3 linked regions of the Homo sapiens genome follow. The main gene of each other region encodes a partner of the protein of the gene in region 2 in a complex. Each region holds a gene or a part of one and is shown on either strand. Other genes may lie near its edges.

The links.
Region 1: STRN (region 2) and STK26 share a complex: the UniProt entries of both Homo sapiens proteins name them as parts of the core of STRIPAK complex.
Region 3: STRN (region 2) and STRIP2 share a complex: the UniProt entries of both Homo sapiens proteins name them as parts of the core of STRIPAK complex.

What each region holds. Positions count from the first base shown.
Region 1 is NC_000023.11:132,054,190-132,061,301, forward strand, and holds part of STK26 (serine/threonine-protein kinase 26), read left to right. Parts: intron 1-441; coding exon 442-672; intron 673-7,112. UniProt on the Homo sapiens protein: Serine/threonine-protein kinase that acts as a mediator of cell growth. Modulates apoptosis. In association with STK24 negatively regulates Golgi reorientation in polarized cell migration upon RHO activation.
Region 2 is NC_000002.12:36,844,512-36,851,623, reverse strand, and holds part of STRN (striatin), read left to right. Parts: intron 1-516; coding exon 517-624; intron 625-1,823; coding exon 1,824-1,910; intron 1,911-1,998; coding exon 1,999-2,168; 3' UTR 2,169-7,112. UniProt on the Homo sapiens protein: Calmodulin-binding scaffolding protein which is the center of the striatin-interacting phosphatase and kinase (STRIPAK) complexes.
Region 3 is NC_000007.14:129,451,358-129,458,469, forward strand, and holds part of STRIP2 (striatin-interacting protein 2), read left to right. Parts: intron 1-255; coding exon 256-390; intron 391-762; exon of another isoform or gene 763-859; intron 860-1,869; coding exon 1,870-1,990; intron 1,991-2,784; coding exon 2,785-2,853; intron 2,854-3,063; coding exon 3,064-3,170; intron 3,171-3,886; coding exon 3,887-4,014; intron 4,015-5,081; coding exon 5,082-5,285; intron 5,286-5,342; exon of another isoform or gene 5,343-5,655; intron 5,656-6,465; exon of another isoform or gene 6,466-6,725; coding exon of another isoform or gene 6,726-6,857; coding exon 6,858-7,093; intron 7,094-7,112. UniProt on the Homo sapiens protein: Plays a role in the regulation of cell morphology and cytoskeletal organization. Required in the control of cell shape. Calmodulin-binding scaffolding protein which is the center of the striatin-interacting phosphatase and kinase (STRIPAK) complexes.

The sequences.
Region 1 (7,112 bases), on a different chromosome or scaffold from region 2:
GGATATCCGAGTTGGAGAGAGAGGAGTGTTAAAAGGTAATATTGGCAGAATGTTAGAAACTTAAACAGTTCACCTTAGCTTAGGTTAGATATTCTCCCACTATTGCTACATTTGCATTAATGTGTAAACTGTGTATAATCAGCGGCTTTATTCCAAAAAGTGCCTGATGTTTTGGCATGCACTGGATATATTTGCTGTGTGAGAATGTTTGTGATAGCAGGATCAGCTAAGCTCAGTTAGTGTGTATGATTCACTAGAATATGGACTAGCTGCCTGTTTGGGATTACAGTTGTTCTAACAAAGCACATGTGGGGAGTCAGAGGAGTTTGTATGCTTTTACAAAAATGTGTTATTGTCTTATGTGATTTATTTTCCTTCATTAAAAAAATTTGATTCAAAACATTTGTGTTCTTTCTTTTTCTCGTTCCCCACTCCCTTCAGAATAACATAGCTGATCCAGAAGAACTGTTCACAAAATTAGAGCGCATTGGGAAAGGCTCATTTGGGGAAGTTTTCAAAGGAATTGATAACCGTACCCAGCAAGTCGTTGCTATTAAAATCATAGACCTTGAGGAAGCCGAAGATGAAATAGAAGACATTCAGCAAGAAATAACTGTCTTGAGTCAATGTGACAGCTCATATGTAACAAAATACTATGGGTCATATTTAAAGGTAATGTGTGTGCTGTATTATTTAAGTCATAAGGTATTTTCATTAGAAGTTTTTTAATTCTATTTTTTTGAAAGGCAATGTCTTAAATTAGGATTTGGCAGTCTATGGCTTCCAGGCAGAATCCAGCTCCATTTATAGTGCCAAATAAACCGTTGTTAGATTTAGCAGCTGTATTCTGAATGCATCCCAGTACTCAGCTGCACCCCTTTTCCACACCTGAACTTTTGGTTTGATGGAGGAGCAGAAATGCAGCTGGTCCTGGAGACATCTCCTTTGTCAGGAAAGAGCTATCCCCCTGGGTTTCCAGACACTATTCTCAATGGTCTTAACTGTCTCAACCTCAGAGCTGATGGAACATGTAAGTATGTCACTTATTTCATTGAGTTATGGTAGTTATTTACACATTTCTCTCCCCCACCAGGTTGTGAGCTCCTTCATAGCAGGGAGTTTAGCTTAACCAGTCCTGGTACTTACATTCCTTAGCACAGGGTATGGTACATCTTAAGCATGTGGTAAATATTTGTTAAAATGGAATTAAGTGGAATAACATCTGCCTCCCCCTCCAAATAAAAGTTGGATTTTTACTGGTTCCAGGATCATGGGATTAGCAGACACCTGAAGTTCCAGCAGATGGAGGTGTTACTACATAGCAGAAAACTGGTTGGTAAAACCCAGTGGTCCTTGGGTTCCAGAGTTAGAAGTCAGGATTCGTGTCTGTTGAAATGTGAATAATAAATAGTTGAAGAAAAGCCCCCATGAACTCTAGCTTAGTTTGGAGTTTGAATCATTTTAAAATTAAAATTGTTTATCCTTGTATTGCAGTTTTTCAAATGAAGGCTGTGCTAGATCTTTGCCATTCAGGGTTTAAAAGGAGGGAAGTGTTTGTTGTTACTGGTTGATCTATAGGCCAAAAAGAGCGTATCTATAACTAATTAAGCTGTTGGCCTGCGTAAAAATTAATGCTATCATTTTATCCTCTGCTGACCAAATAAAACTTCGGATATCCATCTATACCTTTACGAAATAACCTGTCTTCAAGTTCACAGATTCTTTCTTCTGTTTGATCAGTTCTGCTATTGACACTTTATTGTATTGTTTCATTTCATTCATTGTATTTTTCAGCTTTGAAATTTCTGAGTTTTTAAAATGATTTAATCTACTTGTTAAATTTATCATTTTGTTCATTTATTGTTTTCCTGATTTCACTTGTTTCTTTGTATTTTCTCGAAGTTTGCTGAGCTTCCTTGACACAATTATTTTAAATTATTTGTCAGGCAGTTTATAAATCTCCATTTATTTGGAGTCAGCTACTGGGAAACTACTGTGTTCTTTTGGTGGTGAGATGTCTCCTTGGTTTTTCATGTTTATTATTGCCTTATGTTGATGTCTCTGCAGTTGATAGAGCAATCGCCTCTTCCAGACATTACAGGTTTCAGTGTGAAAAGACCTTCTTCCTCTGTAGGACAGTGTGAGAGCAATGGCTGGGTGGGTTGCAGTGGTTCTGGCTCCAATGAGGGCATAGGAGTATAGTTCCTGTGCAGCTTTGTCACTTGAGATTAGTGTTGACAAAGATTGCAGGGATCCTCAGTGGTCAATACCTTGGTTGTCTACAACAGTGGTGAGGGCTGTTTGAGGTCTTTGGTGGCAAGAGCTGCTAGGGTCCCCCCAGTCTCTTTTTCTTCCACCAGAGAAATCATAGCCGAGTAGATCCCTTTTGGCATTGGGTCTGCTTGTGGGCCCACTTGAGGTGGCACTAGTGTCTAATGAGTGATGCCCATGGAGTGGCCACAGAACTAAGGCTTCAAGCATAGGCATATCTGGAGGGACATGCTCTGGGGCCCAAGCCAATAGTAATACCAACGTCCTAGGTACAAATACCCCCTACTGCTGCACAGAGCTACAGTGGCTCTGAGGGTGGCGTAGGGCCTAGCTATTTGTAACATCTGAGCTGATGTCTGGAGCATAGGCACGCTCAGAGGGACCTTGTCTCCAGAGCCTGGGATGTGAGCTAGCTCACTATGGCAGTGATTAGCTCAAGTGTCTGAGCTGTGGGTGGGTCCAGTGCAACCACTCAGCTGGTCTGGAGTCCAGAACACAGGCTAGCTTTCAGTGGTGACTGTGTGGATGTCTGGAGCATAGGCACACTCAGAGAAACCTTGGCTCCGGGGCCCTGGGGTGTGAGCTAGCTCACTGTGGCAGTGGCTCCAATGTCTGAGGTATGGTTGAGCTCAGTGAAGACGCAGAATCTGGGTCTGGAGTGTGGGCACTAGTGGAGTGGCCATGACTCAGAGGTCTGGAGCTGCATCAGTTTTCAGAGTGGTGGCTTCTTTCTCCATGTGGCTCAACAATGTCTTCTTCTTGAGATGAGAGAGTTTTGTAGTCATGTATTCCTCTTGGGGTTCCCTGGCAGAAATGGCTGTTGACTACCTCAGTAGCAAGAGATGCCAGTGTCCTCTGCAGAGCAGGCCACTGGGGACCATGATGGCTTCTACTGTGTAGTGATACCAATAGCCTCCACCTTTCATCTTTGTTCCTAGACATTTCCTGGCCTCTCAGGTATGCTGATCTCCTCAGTGATCCTTCCTGTGGAGTTATTCTTTCTTTTTTGCTCCACTGTGTTGCTGCAGATTGTTAAATAGGCCCTTGAATCCTTCCAGAGTTACTTGGGTTTGTGGATAGCTGTCTATATTTGGGGGCTTTTTATGTATATGTGGAGGGAGGGGATGATTAAAACTGGTATCTCCTCTGCCGTCTTGGTGACTTTGTCATCGCTTTCCATCTATCTGTATCTATATTGGTTAATACTGATATAGAAATTTATCACAAATTTCACTGCCTGTTTACAAAACCCGACTTATTCTAATATTGGATGTATGTGGTATGAATGCATAGTAGAATGAATCATTAAGCAGCCAAACAGCCACTATATATTACACACTGTATTAGGTGCTGAAGATATAAAAGTGAACAAACTCACTACTGCTGTCAAGGCACTCACAGTCCAGTTTTGCACTGAAATGATGCCAATTTTATGGTTAAAGTATGTACAAGGTATAGATGATGCACAAATTAGTAAGTAGTCACTTCTGTCCTTTTCAGGAGTGGCATGAATAAAAGGCCTCCAAAAGGAGGTGATAATGCTAGTAATTTCTATCCAATTTCAGCATTTACATCTAAGTGTTAGCTATTACTGTATTTTACTACATACATAATTATTTGCTCCTTTGTGTGATAATTTTGCTGTCATATTTGTTCCTAAAAAGCTAATTCAGCCCATCATATTCTTTTTTAGAGATCTCATGAGTGATTACGCAGTCTCAGTAGTTTTAGGTTCTCCTCCTAATTCCCATACAATTCCTTGGTGGTACATGTGTGTGTGTGCGTGTGTGTGTATGTGTGTGTGTGTGTGTGTGTGTCTGTGTGTGTATCATTTGCTCATTCTGGTTTACTCTTTCTGGACTGAATCCCGGTATTTCCAGACTCACTCTAGGGCAAAACTGAATCCTTGCTACTTTTAGGCACCTGTGACAAAAACACTATTTTTGGTTGCTGACCTAAAATATTAAATACGCCCTATTTAAAATGGCTATTCCATAATATATTGAAAATTGGTACTGATATGGTTTGACAATTTTATTGGTTGCTTATTTATTCATATTCAATACTCCCATGGAAAATGAGTGACAGCTCTATCTTCTTTTCCTAAGATTTCATATAGAGTGTTTTTTAAGTTGCACAGTAGTATACATGTACTAGTCACCCAGTATTTACTTAATCTTTAAATAATTAAAAACTAGTTTTTTGTTTGTCCCAAATTTTGATTGTAAAGTGTACTCAGACCAGCCAGTGCTACAAAACCATCGTCCAAGATAGCTTCTTAAGGGATTAAATCAAATTATTTTTATCTCCTTCACCCATCATTAACTAAACTCTATGATATAAAACACTACTTTGAAGAACATGTTGCTTCATGATAAAATTGTAGAAATGTGCAGCTGGCTTATGTTGATTATTTGTGTTCTGAATCTATTTAAAGTAAATAAATCTGTGTGTATATACATATGTCTTGAGACATATGTATATACACACAGAGAAAGAAATATTCTATAATCTTACAACGTTTTCATACCATGTATTTAAATCACTTTCTTAAATTGACCAACTCATTTATTTTCCATTTATATTACAACATAGTATGACTGTGTGGGTTTGTATTTTTTTCTAAACTAAAATCACGTCAAATATAACAGGATTCTGTTTCATGTAGTCAACATAAGTCAAGGCCACATCCTCTTTGTGCCATCAGGGAACTGTGTTATCAGTCAACTTACATACTTATTGTGGCCCATTGTTCCATTTCAGGTGACATGGAGGATTTTGTGAGTCAAGTTAATTGAGCAAACTGGGAAATGGGTTGTTCTTACACAGGATGTCATCCATAACTAAGACCTCACTGTAAGCTGGAGGAAAAGTTTATTACATTTGAGAGAAAATTATATGTTCTTTGAAACTGTATGCAGTTGTAGTGATTTCCTTGAGACATGCAAAAAATGTACTAGGTATTCATTTTGACTAAGCTCACTGTATAACTTCATTTTTGAAAACAAGAGTTAAAAACCAGACAAACACATCAGTATGACCACAGTGTTTTCCTTTAATTTTAGTTCACTGGGCAGATTTTCTTGACAAAGTTAGTCTTTATGAAGAGTGCTAAAATAAGCAAACCCTTCCCTTCTGATCTCATAATATTGGAATAATCTTTTATAATCTTTAAATATTTTTCTAGTTCAGTGTAAATCTTAAAATGACACTCAGGCATTGAATAGAATTTGAATCATGCCTTTATTTGCTGCTGAAAATTGCCTTTAGATTTCTGTGTATGTTAAGGAAATATTGCCTCCCACCCACCATCACCAGTATTTATGAAAAAAAAAAGAATTGAATGAAGTAAAATATTTCAGAATCATCTGTACGGCTTTGTGGCCTTCTCCTTATTTTTCACTGAAACTGTATGTGCTTACAGCCAGTTTATGTATGCTCAATGCCTCTGGAATATTCTTTTATTGTTAACATTTGTTTTGGAGTTCTCTTATAAAACTTGAAGAAAATGGAGGCTAGAAAGTTTGTTCCTTCTTAAAATGTTCTTTTCTCAAAATAGGAATAGCTTTAAACTTAATATAATACACCTCTAAGAAGCCCCATGTTAGATTCAATTCAACAGACGCTTATTTATTAATGCCTACTATGTGTATTCCTCTTCTTTTGCATATTGTGGTTAATCTCATCTACTTTCGTCTGACAACTTCTAAACTGATGTCTCTGGTTTCATCCTCTCTGCTCAGCCCCAGATATGTGTTTATAACTTGCTTCATATTAATAGCCTGCTTATCTGTGAGTACATCAAGTGCAATAACCCTCAAACTAGGGAGGTAGCATTTGAACTAAGTCTTGAGAATGATTTTGATAGGGGTTGGAAGGTGCAAGTGGGGTAGGGACACAGCATTCCAAGCTGGAGGAAAATGACTCAGAAGTGGTAAATTTTCTAGCCATATTCTTGGCAAGATGATCTCTACTGTCACTTCCAGTTTTATAAAGTCTTATGTGCTGTATGTTTTTTTTAATCAGGCAAAATATACTTAACACTAAATTTGCCATTTTAAGTGTACAGCTCTCTGGCATTGGCTACATTCACATTGATTTTGTGTTTTTTTTGTTTGTTTGTTTTTTGGGTGGTTTTTTTTTTGTTTTGTTTTTTTGTTTTGCTTTTTTTTTGTGACAGGGTCTCACTCTGTCTCCCGAGCTGGAGTACAGTGGCGCAGTCTTGGCCCACTGCAGCCTCCACCTCCCAGGTTCAATTGATCCTCCCACCTCAGCCTCCCGAGTAGCTGGGACTACAGGCATATGCCACCACACCTGGCTACTTTTTTGCACTTTTTGTAGAGATGAGGACTCCCTATGTTGCCTAGACTGCTCTCAGACTCCTGGACTCAAGCGATCCTCCCACCTCGGCCTCCCAAAATACCAGGATTACAGGCGTGTTGTGCAGCCCTCACCACCACTGATTTCCAGAACAAATAAGGATTCCTTATTTTCAGATCTAGAAATTGAGTAGTTGTAATTTTAATGCTTAATGGTATATACTACTTTGTAAAGTCACATTTCAAGCTTTCTATGAACACGTTTTACTGACAGACAGTTGGCAAGTTTCTGTTTTGAATTAGTACAAACAAAAAGGCACACATTGTTTTTAACTTGGAAAACAGGTGCTTTCATTCATGCAGAACTGCAAAATAGGCAGGCATGTTTTATAAGATCTTTTTCTTTTAAATGTCAGGTGAATGGGAAGCTCTCTGAATTCATATGATAGAGTATAGTACTTGTTAGAAACAAACTTGTGGCAGAAGAAACAATTTTTAACCTATCCACCATTGTAAGAACCA
Region 2 (7,112 bases):
TTATAAATATTTCCAGATTTATCAGGCAATTCTCTTTCCTAACATTGAAATTTTGAAAACAGTCACAGAATAAATGAACTAAAGACAAATAATGAAAGTCACATTATTACTTTTTCTTTTTCTTTTTTCTTTTCTTTTTTTGAAATGGAGTCTCGCTCTGACACCTAGGCTGGAATGCAGTGGCACGATCTCGGCTCACTGCAACTTCCATCTCCCGGGTTCAAGTGATTTTCCTGCCTCAGCCTCCTGAGTAGCTGGAACTACAGGCACGCACCACCACACTCGGCTAATTTTTGTATTTTTAATAGAGACAGGGTTTCACCATGTTGGCCAGGATGGTCTCGATCTCCTGACCTCGTGATCCACCCACCTTGGCCTCCCAACGTGCTTGGATTACAGGCGTGAGCCACCGCGGCCGGCCTACTTTTTCAGTCTCTTAGATAGATAATTCAGTTCTCCTTTGTGTGAAAAATATCTTTGACTAAGTTGTGTTGCTTTTTAATTTTTTCTTTTTAGCAGCCAACTCTTCCTGCCAAATAAATAGAGTCATCAGTCATCCTACTCTTCCGATCAGCATCACTGCTCATGAAGACAGGCACATCAAATTCTATGATAACAATACAGGTAAGAATTTATTAAGAATTGATTTTTATTAAAGCAAAAAAAAAAAATCCCTACCACAAGTAGGCTAATTTTGGTGTCTCTTGGTGGTTTCGTAGTCAGGGAATAGGCACTGAACCCCAAATACTCTCCCGTCTCAGTTTCTCTTCACTCTATCCAAATCTGCTAAGACTAGTCTTTATTATACAATACAGAATCATTTTGGTTTATTTAATAGTGAGCAGATGCTATATGTAGGCTTTAGAGCCAAGGTTATCACTAGGGACACCAGGAAAAGTTCACTCAAATACAAATAAAAATGATCTGTTGCTATGATCTATTGTAGTATTATATATTGGGGAAAAGTAGAAACATTGGAAATAGAGGCATATGGTCATTATATTTTGTTTAAAGTTGTTCAGTTATTGAATAGCATTATTCAATATTCAATTATTCCATTACCAAATAGCCTTTTTTAGTGTTGCGGATGGAAAACCTCCAGGTCATTGTATTCGTTTTTCCATAGACTAATCTTTTCTGTATTATAAAACTGACTGGTTGGTCCTCATTGATTTGAATTGTGCATGGAGATTTGCCCAAGTTTTATTTTATTACATTTCACCAGTATAAAGGAAATTTAGGAAGCACTGTGCTGGGAGGAAAGCACCCTATATTAGCTGCCATATTTACCTAAGTATCTGCCTTGTTAATATGTTGACTTCTGCTGACTTTGTTTAGCTGCTGGTGATGAATCATTTAATATTTAAAATTTTTTTCTGTATGTTGTATCCACCAAAATTGTGGCCATGTTTTCTTTCTGTCCCTTTTTCCTTGCCTCATTGTTTTCTCTCTGTGAATTTGAATTCTGTGTTTCCACAACTCATAATTTGCCAGTAGCTAAAGAATGCAAAGTAGGTGATTAATAATGTCTAAGTTCTAATTAACAAACGTGGCTTAAGGGTTGCGTGTAGAAATTACTGACTTCCATATCGTGGCTTAAAAGACAAAAGTGTAATCTAAAATTTGAGCTTTTTTTGGTTTTCCATATCATTGCCATGACTAGAGGCAAGAGGGAGACATGTTGTTTTAGGTGATGGAAAAAGCTATTAATACAGTAAGCACACAGAGAGGGATGACTGGAGAAACCAGCAGGACATGGTAGCTGGCAAATATTGAAGATGAGGAAAGGCATTAATAAGGAGTAACAATCTCTTTTTCCAAAGGCAAACTGATCCACTCGATGGTAGCCCACCTAGAAGCTGTTACAAGTTTAGCAGTTGATCCCAATGGCCTTTACTTGATGTCTGGCAGTAAGTACCTCAACTATGGATTATTTATTTGTCCTTACCATTTTCATGTTAATGTAATTTTTCCTTTTAATTTTTTTTTTGGATATAGGTCATGACTGTTCAATACGTTTATGGAATCTAGAAAGTAAGACGTGTATCCAAGAATTCACAGCTCATCGAAAAAAGTTTGAAGAATCGATTCATGATGTAGCTTTCCACCCATCCAAATGCTATATAGCCAGTGCTGGAGCTGACGCACTGGCTAAAGTCTTTGTATGACGCAATGCATCATCTTCACCTTCTAGCTGTTTATAAGTAATCAACTGCACACAAGAGATACAGAAGACGAGGGCAAGAATCATCTCGTCCTGCCCTTTTGTTCTGCTGAAGGAGCACAGAGAACATTTGTTGAAGTATAGTTTTGCAATTCATATACTGTTTTCTAAAACTAAGGTTTGTTCAGGTTGCTGCAAGCTCAGCTGAATCTGTGAGCCTGAGGTCTGTTTCAAATTTCTCCCCAATAGGCGCCTTTATTTCTGAGGTGGTTCTAATTCGCTAGGCAGGCCTGAGCGAATACAAGTTTAGCTTGTCCCTGTTGAGTAAGTAGGGCATGCTACAATGGATAATTTAAAAGCTTGATAGCTGGGACTGAATAGAAGAAAACGGGAAACTTAGACCAAGTTCTCCCCTGAGAAATCTTGTTAAAACACATTAAGTAGTCAAAATAGTAATCTTTATCATATCTGCCATATTAACCCCTTTGTGTATAATGACCAGGCAGTGTTAAACTGAGTTTTTAATTTGACTCTCCTTTCAGCTGTTCACATAAAGCACCTGGCAAAGCATTTTACCTGTTAGGGGGAGAAAAATGCAATAATATGTTAAATATATTATTATTCAGAAATGCTAGACAAATAGTTTGCAAGCAGATTTCTATATTGTATTACAGTTTTGAAAACAGATTTGGTATCATTCTAAAGTTTAGCTATCAAGCACTCACCATTGTGAAGAATAGTTGATCGACTCTGCTTTTACTAACAGATTTAACTTATTCAGGTTTGAAATTCTGTTTATTTTTAAGGGTAAACAGGGCATATCTCTTTAATAATTTCTATTTTAAAATTCACTTTATTCATGTGACATTTATAGTACCAGAGTGATTATTTCATACCAATGAAATCTTACTTTTCAGTGACTGAAAAGATAGAATTTATTTGCTAATAATCATTTATCAACACCCACCTAATCATGCTTCAGATGATCTGTGCTCTTTCTTCTTTGTCACGTTCAAGTTATCTGACATCTACCAAGAACAGTTCATAATTATTAATAGCCCAAAGAGTATGGTTAACTTCACGCAGCTGCTTTTGCAGAAGCACTAATAAAAACAAATATTTTGTACCCTAGAAGTCCTCTATTAATCCCTGTAAGAATCTCCTGGAAACCTGGATGAAAGAGTTTAATGCCAAATATTGGCTAAAAAGTTCTGTCTTTCTCTCTCCCTATTCCTCCCCCATTGTTTAATTGAGATATACATGTTTTAATGGGCAGTGGATCAGTATTGTTTCTGGGGAAATCCACACCTTAAAAGGCCAGGCTTCCCCAGCCCAACTTACCTGTGACCCACCTACATGTGTTCACCTTTTGGGATTCTGAAGACCCTGCTATCTAGACCTAGTCTCCTGTCATAAAGACATTATTTCTATAGTGGTTTATGTCTCTCTTACTCTTTGTCCCAAATGACAGAGACCAATCTAGAAATTGGAAATAAATTATTAACGTCCAACTTTCCACCAAAAAACATATAAATAGGCTCTTAGATTTTAAAAATATTAAATCTATAGATATTTTAACCAATTAAAACAATTTCTACATATTCCATTCCCCACATTTTCCATCGTCATAACAATGATGCTTCTCATGATACGTACATCTACTCCTTGAAAAAGTATTCTGGTGGTGGTGTGGCTAATGATTGACAAATATTTCTGTAAAATTTCTGCCTGTTTGCCTCTAGAATTCTGCATTATACAGGCAAATTTTCTTTAAAGCTAGAGACTTGTGCTAAATTTGCCTGATTTTCATACAGATATGCTGTAGTAATACAGCTACCTTTTCATTTCATCTTTGTGCTTTGGTTAACAAGCAGGCTCAAGAGACTGCTTTGTGTAATTAAATGAATTGACCTAAACATGAGCTGTCAGGTGAATACTTAATATTTCCATGCAGATACAGAATTCCATATTGTGTTCAGTAAATTTCTTTTGGTTCTTCACAGTGAAGAAAGAATGTTTCTAACCTAACATTTGTAGAAGGATACTGGAAAATTCCTTCCAGGAAGGAAGGAAGGAAGATGCCATTACTTGGTGTATTTATGATGGATGACCACAAAGCTATTGTTCTACCAGTTATTAATTACCTTCTAAGATCTTCAGTTACTGCTTTATTAATGTCACTGAAATTCTAAAAACCAGGACATTCTTCCCCCGTTCATTTTATGCTTCATGGTTGAAATTTTTCTGTCAGTGAGTGGAAAATAACCATGAGATACATAGACTGTAGCGCAAATGGAACTGTTGAAAGTTCCTTAGAAAGCCAGTGCTGTGGCATTGGAGACTACGGAGAGAGTCTTCTCTACCAGCACTGCATGATCTCAGCCTAGAAATGAGCCAAAGCTGTCTTCCAACCAGAGTAGCATATACATGTGTCTGACTTTTCCCCTAGCCTGTTGAACATTCAATGAAAATTCACAGAATGAACAAATTCAATGTTTAAACAGCCATTGAAATGCTTTCATAGTGCTTCATTTGTAAATATTTTGTTTGAAATGTATTGGAATAGTATGAAAATTAGCGGGAGGTTTGGATCCCTGCCTTATTTTCATATGCTGTGGATACATCTCTGGGAGCTTGCAGCACCCTTCTCAAAACTCAACTGTCATATGGAGCTCATTTGCTACTCAAACCATAGACAGATTATTTAACAAAAGTGATATAATGACCTTCAGTATTTTTCTATTGAACAAGTTTAACAACTTTTGCCATTAAACAAATACTTAGTTATGCAAAATATTTCGCTTTTATAATCATTTTAGTTATGACTAAAACGGGGGAAATTGAGCTGCATCACTGATGATGAACTTTGTGAGAAATTTTTTTTTTAATCTGACTTTCATTCCTTCAGTATTCTTGCTATAAATTTCTTTTGGAGATAATGATGAAGATTTATTTGAAAATGTCTAAAATGTATGTATATTTTATAAATATATATTATATATATTGTAAGAATATATATAATATATAAACTATATATATATATATATATATATATATATATATATATATATAAACCATAGGTGCATTTTACTGTTTTGTATTTTCATTTTTGGAGGTAGTATACACAGCAGATAATGATGAGTATGATGAGTGTTGTGCTGTTTGCTTTTGCAGTATAATATATAGTTCTAAGTGTTTAAATTACTGTATATACAATATTCATTATAGGCTAGCATGCTTGTTTTAAAGACTGTCATTCTAGTGTATTAAAATCTGAATGTAAGAAAACCTGGCTATTCAAATGTGAATTGAAAAATATTTTATTCTCAGTACTGAACTATTTCCATTGAACATTCAGACTTTTTAACAAAAACAAATATCATCAAGAAGGCAATAGCTAGAAAATGAGAGGTGCCTTTAAAAAAAAAAATGCAGCCTTACAGTGAGGATGAAGATTGAGTTTGGGGAGGGGGTGGGAGGGGGGGCACAGAGAGAGAGAGAGAGTTAGTGTGTGTGTGTGTGTGTGTGTGTGTGTGTGTGTGTGCATGCATGCGTGTGTGTGTGTGTGTGTGTGTTTACCAATCTGTGAAGGTCCTGATTTGTGACCATCAATGTCTTTTTAATGTATCTGCTCAACTTCTAGGACTTCAGGGGACATTTCATGCGCTTTGTGCTCTTCTGAGCACCATATATACTTTCCAAGAATTTTGAATGTGAATTCCTAGAAATTTCAGTAGAGAAAACAATAGCTATTCTTTAATTATAGTAAAGTTCAGGTAGAAGGAGAAATTATTTGTTCACCAAAATTATGGGATCTCATTAATGTTGGCTAAGTAAATGTAATTTTTTAAAGGCTCACTTTTTAATACTTCATATATTTCCCTCTTACAAAACAGCATGTCATGAAGTTCTTATGTGGTAAAGATTCAACTAGTAAATATTTTTAGGTTAAATACCTGAACTAGTTAAAATTCCACCTAAGAATAGTCTTAAAATATTTAAAAAGCATCTCTCATATCTACCTCTTTGTCATTGCTGCCATTTTAACTGAAGCAAATCTTTATGACATCTGAAATGATGGTTGGATGCAATTAAAAAAAAATCTATGTTGGTGCTTTTCTCAGGCTTTGTCATTTAAGTTATATTGTATTAAGATGTCACAAATCAGACTGAAAGGCTTAGAATTAATTTTGTTTTTCTTTGAAAGAATTGCTTAAAATTAACCATCAATGTTTTTAGCGAGTGGAGATAATGAATCTTTGGTTGGTGTCTGTCTGTGTGATGTTTTCAACCAATAGCCAAATAATTATTGAACTTACATGAAAAAGAGTGCTAAGTATAATTTTATTTAGATTACTTTATTCTTTGAAAGTGACTACAAGGCTATTAAGTACATAATCATTCATTTTATTTACTCAGAAGTTGCCTCTCCATTACTGTTAACTTGTTTAGTAATTTATATAATTGCAGTACTTTTAAGTGTTGGACACTGGGATTCAGGTTGTATACAAAGTAGTAGCTGACGAAAAATATGTATATTTTTGTGAAATGTATCAAGCCCTAAAGTTCATTTTAGAGAAAGGCCCAGAAAAACGTATCTGTGTTTAAAAACAAAGGACAGGTCATTCGTCAATTTGAATCATTTTTACTTTTGCCACTACAAACTTTTTAATTGGCAATATCCATCATCCAACTGGATCTTCATGTCAGTGTCAGGGATGCCAGGTTGACAAAGTATTTAACAGATCCTTTCAGTTTTTGTTTTGTTTTTTTAATTCTAAAAAAAACAAATGTTAGGCCAAACAGATCCCTAGATCCCACTCATTGATTCTGGCGGTATTCCTAAAGTGGTGCTTAGGGGGTCAGAATTTTCTGGATCTTTGCTAATCCAAGCTTTAGATTTAATTTAACCAGGACCACATGCTTGTCATCTCTCTGATGCAAATTT
Region 3 (7,112 bases), on a different chromosome or scaffold from region 2:
GCAGAAAGACAGGACAGTATGGGCTGTGTGTGGAGGACAGAGGGGATGTTGAAGGTGAGGCTATAGACTGGGTTCAGGCCAGAACATTTTGGGTCCTTTTCCCATACCTTATTCTTTCTCAGTGAAATAAGGAAAGCTTTTGGAGAAAATAATTTTGGCAGGGGAGCTGAGATCAGAGGTGGATATGCTATGAGGAGCCTTTCCAGGAAGGGTGGCAATAGCTGACACTGGATGTATATGGCCTTTTATTCCCAGTGCAGGGCAAGGAATGGCTGGAGTTGGAAGAAGATGCCCAAAAGGCCTATATAATGGGACTCTTGGACCGGCTAGAGGTGGTCAGTAGGGAACGGCGGCTGAAGGTGGCCCGGGCTGTTCTCTACCTGGCCCAAGGTGAGTGACCACCCTTGCTAGCTTTAGAGGGGTGGAGGCTTGAGAGGGAAGTGGGCATTATCAGGACTGAGATGACGCAGGCTGTGCTGGGAAAGCAAGGTTTCTTGCCTCTCAAGGACAGATCTTGTCATGTGCTAGGAGTAACCTGTGCTTATGAGGAAGATGAGATAGTGTTGAGTGCTGTTCTAGATCCCTCGGGATCTGCCTTTATCTTACCAGGTATGTCAGAATTTTTTATAGGGTTCTTCTTTTCCCTACCCTGTACTATAATCATATGTGAATACTAGCAAGAGGTGTGGCCAGAGCTGATATGTACCACCAGCTGATCATGGAGACAAGACATCAACTGTGGCCTGGCCCCAAAACTGAGGAGAAATAGGAGAGTGTCACAGATACACATGGACCCCTTGCATTGTTTCTCATTGGCATTTTGAAAGTTCAAGCCAACATAACTGCGGGAGTGGATGCTGTGAGTAATTTGGAGATGATCAGAACTAAATAGAGTAATTGGGGAAAGCTGCTCAGAAGAAACCTGTTAGCCAGGTGTTGGAAAGGGAAATGAGATAGCCTAGCTGGAGTGAAAATAAGCCTACGATCATAAATATAAGGCGTGTTAACAGAACCAACCAGTTGGGAGCTAAAAAAAAAATTGTAAAATAAAAAAATAATAAATGAAGAGGGGAAAGGGTGGACATTAGGTGAAGAGAAGACTAGCAAATAGGACTGTGCCCTCCTGTATCTCTTGGGTCTGGTGCTCTGGCCAACTTCCAACTGCCAGTACCTTCATATGTTTGCCCAAGGACTTTATTTATCTAAGTTTTTTAAAAGAAAGTCTCACTGTGTTTCCCTGGCTGGTCTTGAACTCATAGGCTCGAGCTATCCTCCTGCTCCAGCCTCCTAAGTAGCTAGGATTATAGGCATGTGCCACCATGCTCAGCTTCTGCTCAAGGGCCTTCTCTGCAGCCCATACAGGGCATCCAGGAAGTGTAGGGAATCAGTGTGCTCCTTTAGTTTAGCACCCTCATCCAATGACTAACAGGAGTTAGTGGATGGATAGCCTGACTGTCTCACCCCTCTTGGATAGAATAACTGTGAGTTGTGTGTTTTATACTGTTTCCAAATTATCCCCTGAGTGAACTCTTTGGGCTTCCTTTTCTTCCCTATCTCTACTGATGATTCCTGGGAATGATTCCCAAATAAGCTACTTGCACTGGAATCCTTACTTACCTCAGGATCTGCTTCTGGGAGAACTCACCCTTAAGACGATAGGCCATTGATGAGCACATTGGACCTAACCCTGGAGACTACCTCTCCTCTCCCCTGACTCATTCCAGGAAGTTCTTGGGGCCCCTGTCATACCTATGTCAGCCTAATTATTAGGCAGAGTATTATAGGAAAATCTTAAGATCATGGGGCAGGGTGGAAAGAACTGGGATACTGCCACCCCTCAACCCCTGTAACAACTGTCTGGTCCTTTAGGTACTTTTGGGGAATGTGATTCAGAGGTCGATGTGCTACACTGGTCCAGGTACAACTGCTTCCTGCTGTATCAGATGGGGACCTTCTCCACCTTCCTGGAGCTACTCCACATGGAAATTGAGTGAGAAGCCTTAGGGGAAGGGCTGGCCTACATAACCCCCATTCCTTAAAGGGGCCTCATGTTCTATGCTGCTTCCCTCACTATAGAGACCCCCTGTGAGGAACTGGGTCTACTCACACCTCAGCCCAAAGCTCATTGACAGTTCCCCTCCATCCAGCCATGTTCTCTGATATTCTGTTCTCCCTCCCTGAGGTTGGATACATCTGCAGCTTCTGCCTCACTTACAGCTTTAATCCTGGGCTTCAGGGGCCTATCCTGAGTGGGTTCTCTTTTTATTCAAGGACTTTCTTAGCTCAGCCTAACTCTGGAATTCAAGAGGGAAACTATTTTGAATGCATGACCCAAGAAAGACAGGAAATCAATTCCTGTCATTGTGCCCAATTCTTTCCCTCATGGGCTATAGTTCTAGAGGTGGCCTTATTTGCTGCTACCACTACAGTGACCCCTTGTTTTGTCTCATGCCCATCACCCAGGAGTTTGAGATAGGGTGCAATCTGCTTATTATTCATCAGGTGTTTCTTAGCATCTGTTTTATGTCCAGCACAGTTCTAAGCATAGTGGGGAATGCAAGAGGAGTGGATACCACAGATCCTGCCCTTGCCTTGTCTTCACCATAGATGAGAGTTTGCTGAGGTGGCAGGGGAATTCTGTCAGCTCCTTTACTCTAGACCAGTTTCATTAGTGGCTGCCTAGCCAGGGAATGGCAAGCACTCATATTTGTGTGAGTGATAAGTAAGAGCACAGAGAGAAAAGAAGTCTTATGCATTCCTGTTCTTTTTCTCCTCCCCTGGCAGCAACAGCCAGGCCTGTAGCAGTGCCCTTCGGAAACCAGCTGTCTCCATAGCTGATAGCACAGAGCTCAGGTGAGTGGGGCTAACTATGGGCTTGGAACAGGGCAGATGATTAGCACCTGGGTTACCTTTTCCCCAAATCCCAGATGACTCAGACCATTAGGAAGTTGCCCTGTAGCTAATCTCACTGGGTTGGGCTTCCCACAGAGACCATCTCTGAGGTCTGTGACTATGGGCTGGGAATTGCCTTGGGAACCTCTTGTGACTCTTCTGTAACCCCAGGGTGCTGCTGAGTGTTATGTACCTAATGGTGGAAAATATTCGCCTGGAGCGAGAGACAGACCCCTGTGGGTGGAGAACAGCCCGGGAGACCTTCCGCACTGAATTAAGTAAGAAATGGCACTTGAGGAAGGTGTGGATGGGGTGCTAATGGGAGAGGGGAAGCAGAGCATCTGCCTAGGAGAGGCAGACAGTCGTTTTTTCTTTTGTTTTCTTTTTTAAAATTAATGTCCTTTCTTTTAGGACACAGATACTGCATGGCAGGCACAAGGGCTGGGCTTGATTGCCGCCCTGTATCTATGAGCTAAGACCAGCCATGTAACTTCTCTATGCCTTGGTTTCCTTGGTTATAAGTGGGGATAGCCATTCCTCTCCCACTCTATCACGAGTCCCACATGAAAAAATGAGTTGAATCACCTTGAAAACTGAGTTCTGTTCAAATGTAAGTTGGTGTTGTCATCTGACAGGGATAGGATATGAAGGACTATGGGATTTTAAAAATATATTTATTGATGTGGAAAAGTGAATGACATTGAGTCCTTTAGCCAGAAAGCAATGTCTTCATTATTGTTACTTCTAGTTTGGCATCCAACCCCAAAGCGTCACCCTAAGCTCTGGGGCCTATGCCATTTTAATTCCATGGCGTCCCTTCCTGCCCTTGAGGGGCTTCCTTCTGGGGGCTAAGCCTCCTTCTCAGGACCAAGTACTCTGGTATTCTTCAGGGGAGGTGAGTGCCTTCCTGTGTGTGTCCAGAATCAGGGTTACATGAAAAAGGTTTTAGCTGCCTCATCCTCACTTTCTCACTCCCCTCTCTCCTCACCCCTAGGCTTCTCCATGCATAATGAGGAGCCTTTTGCCCTTTTACTCTTCTCCATGGTTACCAAGTTCTGCAGTGGCCTGGCTCCTCACTTCCCCATAAAGAAGGTCCTGCTCCTGCTCTGGAAGGTGGTCATGGTGAGTAATTCTCCCCACTCCCACATTATCAGATCAGCAATGCCCTATGCCACCTCAGTTTCTTCTAGTCTCATTCCAGGAGGCTGGATCCAGGGAGCAGAACAGGCAGCCCTTAGCCAACTGCTAATATGGAGGGGCAACAAGGCTGTCCTAGAGACATCAGATGTTCTATGTTAGAATGGGTTTCATGTTTCTATTGGATGGATGGGAGATGCCACTCCATAAATTGGGGATGTCAGTGGTACCTTCTCTTATTAAAGCCAATGTTTGATGGAGAGAACACTGGTTGAAAGTTGGTAGATCTGGGCTTTGCTGATACTGAGAAACTTTGGGCAACTCTCTGTGCCTCAATTTCTCTAGCTGTAAAAGGTTGGGGTGAGTGCCTGCCCTCCCTCCAGATAAACAGAGGTTTTGTATTTTTTTTTTAATAAAAATAATTTTTTCTTACAGACAGGCCTCCCTGTGTTGCCTGGGCTGGTCTTGAACTCCTGGTCTCAAGCAATCCTTTCACCTTGGCTTCCCAAAATGTTGGGATTACAGGCATGAGCCATTGTGCCTGGCCAGGATTTGCTTTTTAAAAAATAATGAAGTTCTTATAAATATGTGGTTACATTTCTGTTACTAGTTATTCAACCTGATCCTTCATTTTTGGCTCCCATCTCACAAGGCAGGCCTAATAGGGGGAACTGCCTCTTGACTGCAGAGGAAATTGAGTGACTCTGGGGGTTTATAGCACCTGGATGGTGTTCCTTAAAAAAGTCGATAGTTTCTTTTTTTTCTTTTTTTTTTTTTTTGAGGAGGCCCGCAGGAATTCCTTTCCTAAATTCTGTGATATTTCCCATACTGGGGCAGTAAATAATGCCTTATCCTGACCCCTGAGCTCCTCAGTTGCCGTGGGGATGGTAATCATATTTGCCTCTTTATGTTTTACTACCTCCTTATTAAGGAAAAGGTCTGAAGGGACTGGAGGTTGTGGCCCTTTCTTTTCATCCATGTTTCCCTGACCTTGGCTCTCTCTTACTTCCCTTCCTTCCTCTCTCTCTGCCCCTTTCCTGTTTCTTCCTTAGTTTACCCTCGGTGGATTTGAGCATCTGCAGACTCTCAAAGTACAGAAGCGGGCAGAATTGGGCCTGCCTCCACTGGCTGAAGACAGTATCCAGGTGGTGAAGAGCATGCGTGCTGCCTCCCCGCCCTCTTACACTCTTGACCTGGGAGAGTCTCAGCTGGCACCCCCACCCTCCAAGCTGCGAGGCCGCCGTGGCTCTCGAAGGGTATGGACTGAAGCAGACAATGGTATTGGGACACCGACTGGCCAAAAATCAAGATTCTAAGTTACTCTGGGTGTGGTAGGAAAAAGCAGTAAATGACCCGGCTCATCCTGCCCAGGTTGGCCCTATGACCAACCTGAAATCTTAGGGTCTCTAGTTTGGCCTCTGTCCCCCAGCCCTGACAGCCCCCTGCGCTGTTGTGATGTGACACTGTGATATCATGTCATATATAGCCATGTCTTGCTACAGAATCATTGGCCTGGACCTCAGTGCCTGGAGTTCCTTACATTCTGAATAACAATTAAGGGTATAATCCTGGGGATAGGGACCCAGGATACCGGAACAGGTCTCCAAGCAAATCCATTTTTCTGGGGTAAGGCATTTTACTATTTTGAAGCACCAGGAAGTTTTACTGTCAGCCAGCCACACTCTTAACTGGCCCTGGAACCAAAGGCTTACATTTAAGAGATGACTGGGTAGGGGTCTATGTATATAACCATGTGACACTAAACGACAGGGATACAATCTGAAAAATGTGTCATTATGCAATTTTGTCACTGAGCAAACATCATAGAGTGTACTTACACAAACCCAGATGGTATAGCCTACTGCACACCTAGGCATATAGCCTATTGTTCCTAGACTACAAACCTGTACAGCAGGTTACTATACCGAACACCATATGCAATTGTAACCCAATGGTGTTTGTGTATCTCAACCTAGAAAAGGCCAATAAAAATACAGTATTATAATCTTATGGGTCCACAATTACATATGCAGTCCATTGTTGACTGAAGCATCGTTGTGCAGCACATGACTATAGTCTGCTGTCCTGAAAAGGTCAGAATGAAAAGTTATACTGAGATCTGACTATGTTCTTACAAACTCCCCTGCCTGACCCACTTCAGTTTATCAACAGGGCTAGATAGTAGTGCTCAGTAATCCAGTCTCCATTATCTGCAATAAAATTTTTTAACTTTATTTTTGTTTTATAAAGTAATGCTTACTCATTGTAGAAAATTTGGAACAAATATAAAAATGTGATGAAGGGAGAAAAGAAAAATCACCCACAATCTTAACAACCAGAGACAGTCACTGTTAACTTTTTGGCCTATTTCTGTCCAATCTTTTTTTCTTTGTCACAAGATTTAAAATTCCAAACTTGCTTCCCTCTGCCTAGCAGCAAGCTTCTGTCCTCCTCTTCCTCAGTCAGCCAGCTGGTGTATGCTCACAGAAGGCAAACTAATTGAATGTTCACCTAAGCAGAGCATAATTAGGAAGGAAAGTGCTGGCAAAAAAAGGCATCACTGCTTTCTGAAAGCTAAGTAATTGTGACTTTGGGATTATCTATGCTATGTTCCCTGGCTAATGGCAGGGTTACCTGAGAACTTCTTGTCCTGTTATTGGGCCGGGTGGGGACAGTAGGTTAAGGTGGGGAATTGGATGTTTTCGCAAGGGCTGTGTTCAGATTCCATGTTCCCTGAAATGTGGAGGCCTGTGGATATGGGGTGGCCTCAGACAAGGATGCCCAGAGTGAGATCTCTGCATGCCTACCCTCCCTTCTTTCCCCTCCAGCAACTCCTCACTAAGCAGGACAGCCTGGACATCTACAATGAAAGGGATCTCTTCAAGACTGAGGAGCCCGCCACAGAGGAGGAAGAGGAGTCTGCTGGTGATGGAGAACGAACCTTGGATGGAGAGCTAGACCTGCTAGAGCAGGACCCTCTGGTGCCACCTCCACCCTCACAGGCACCCCTCTCTGCTGAGCGGGTGGCTTTTCCCAAGGGCCTGCCCTGGGCCCCAAAGGTCAGGTAGGTTTGATAGCATCAG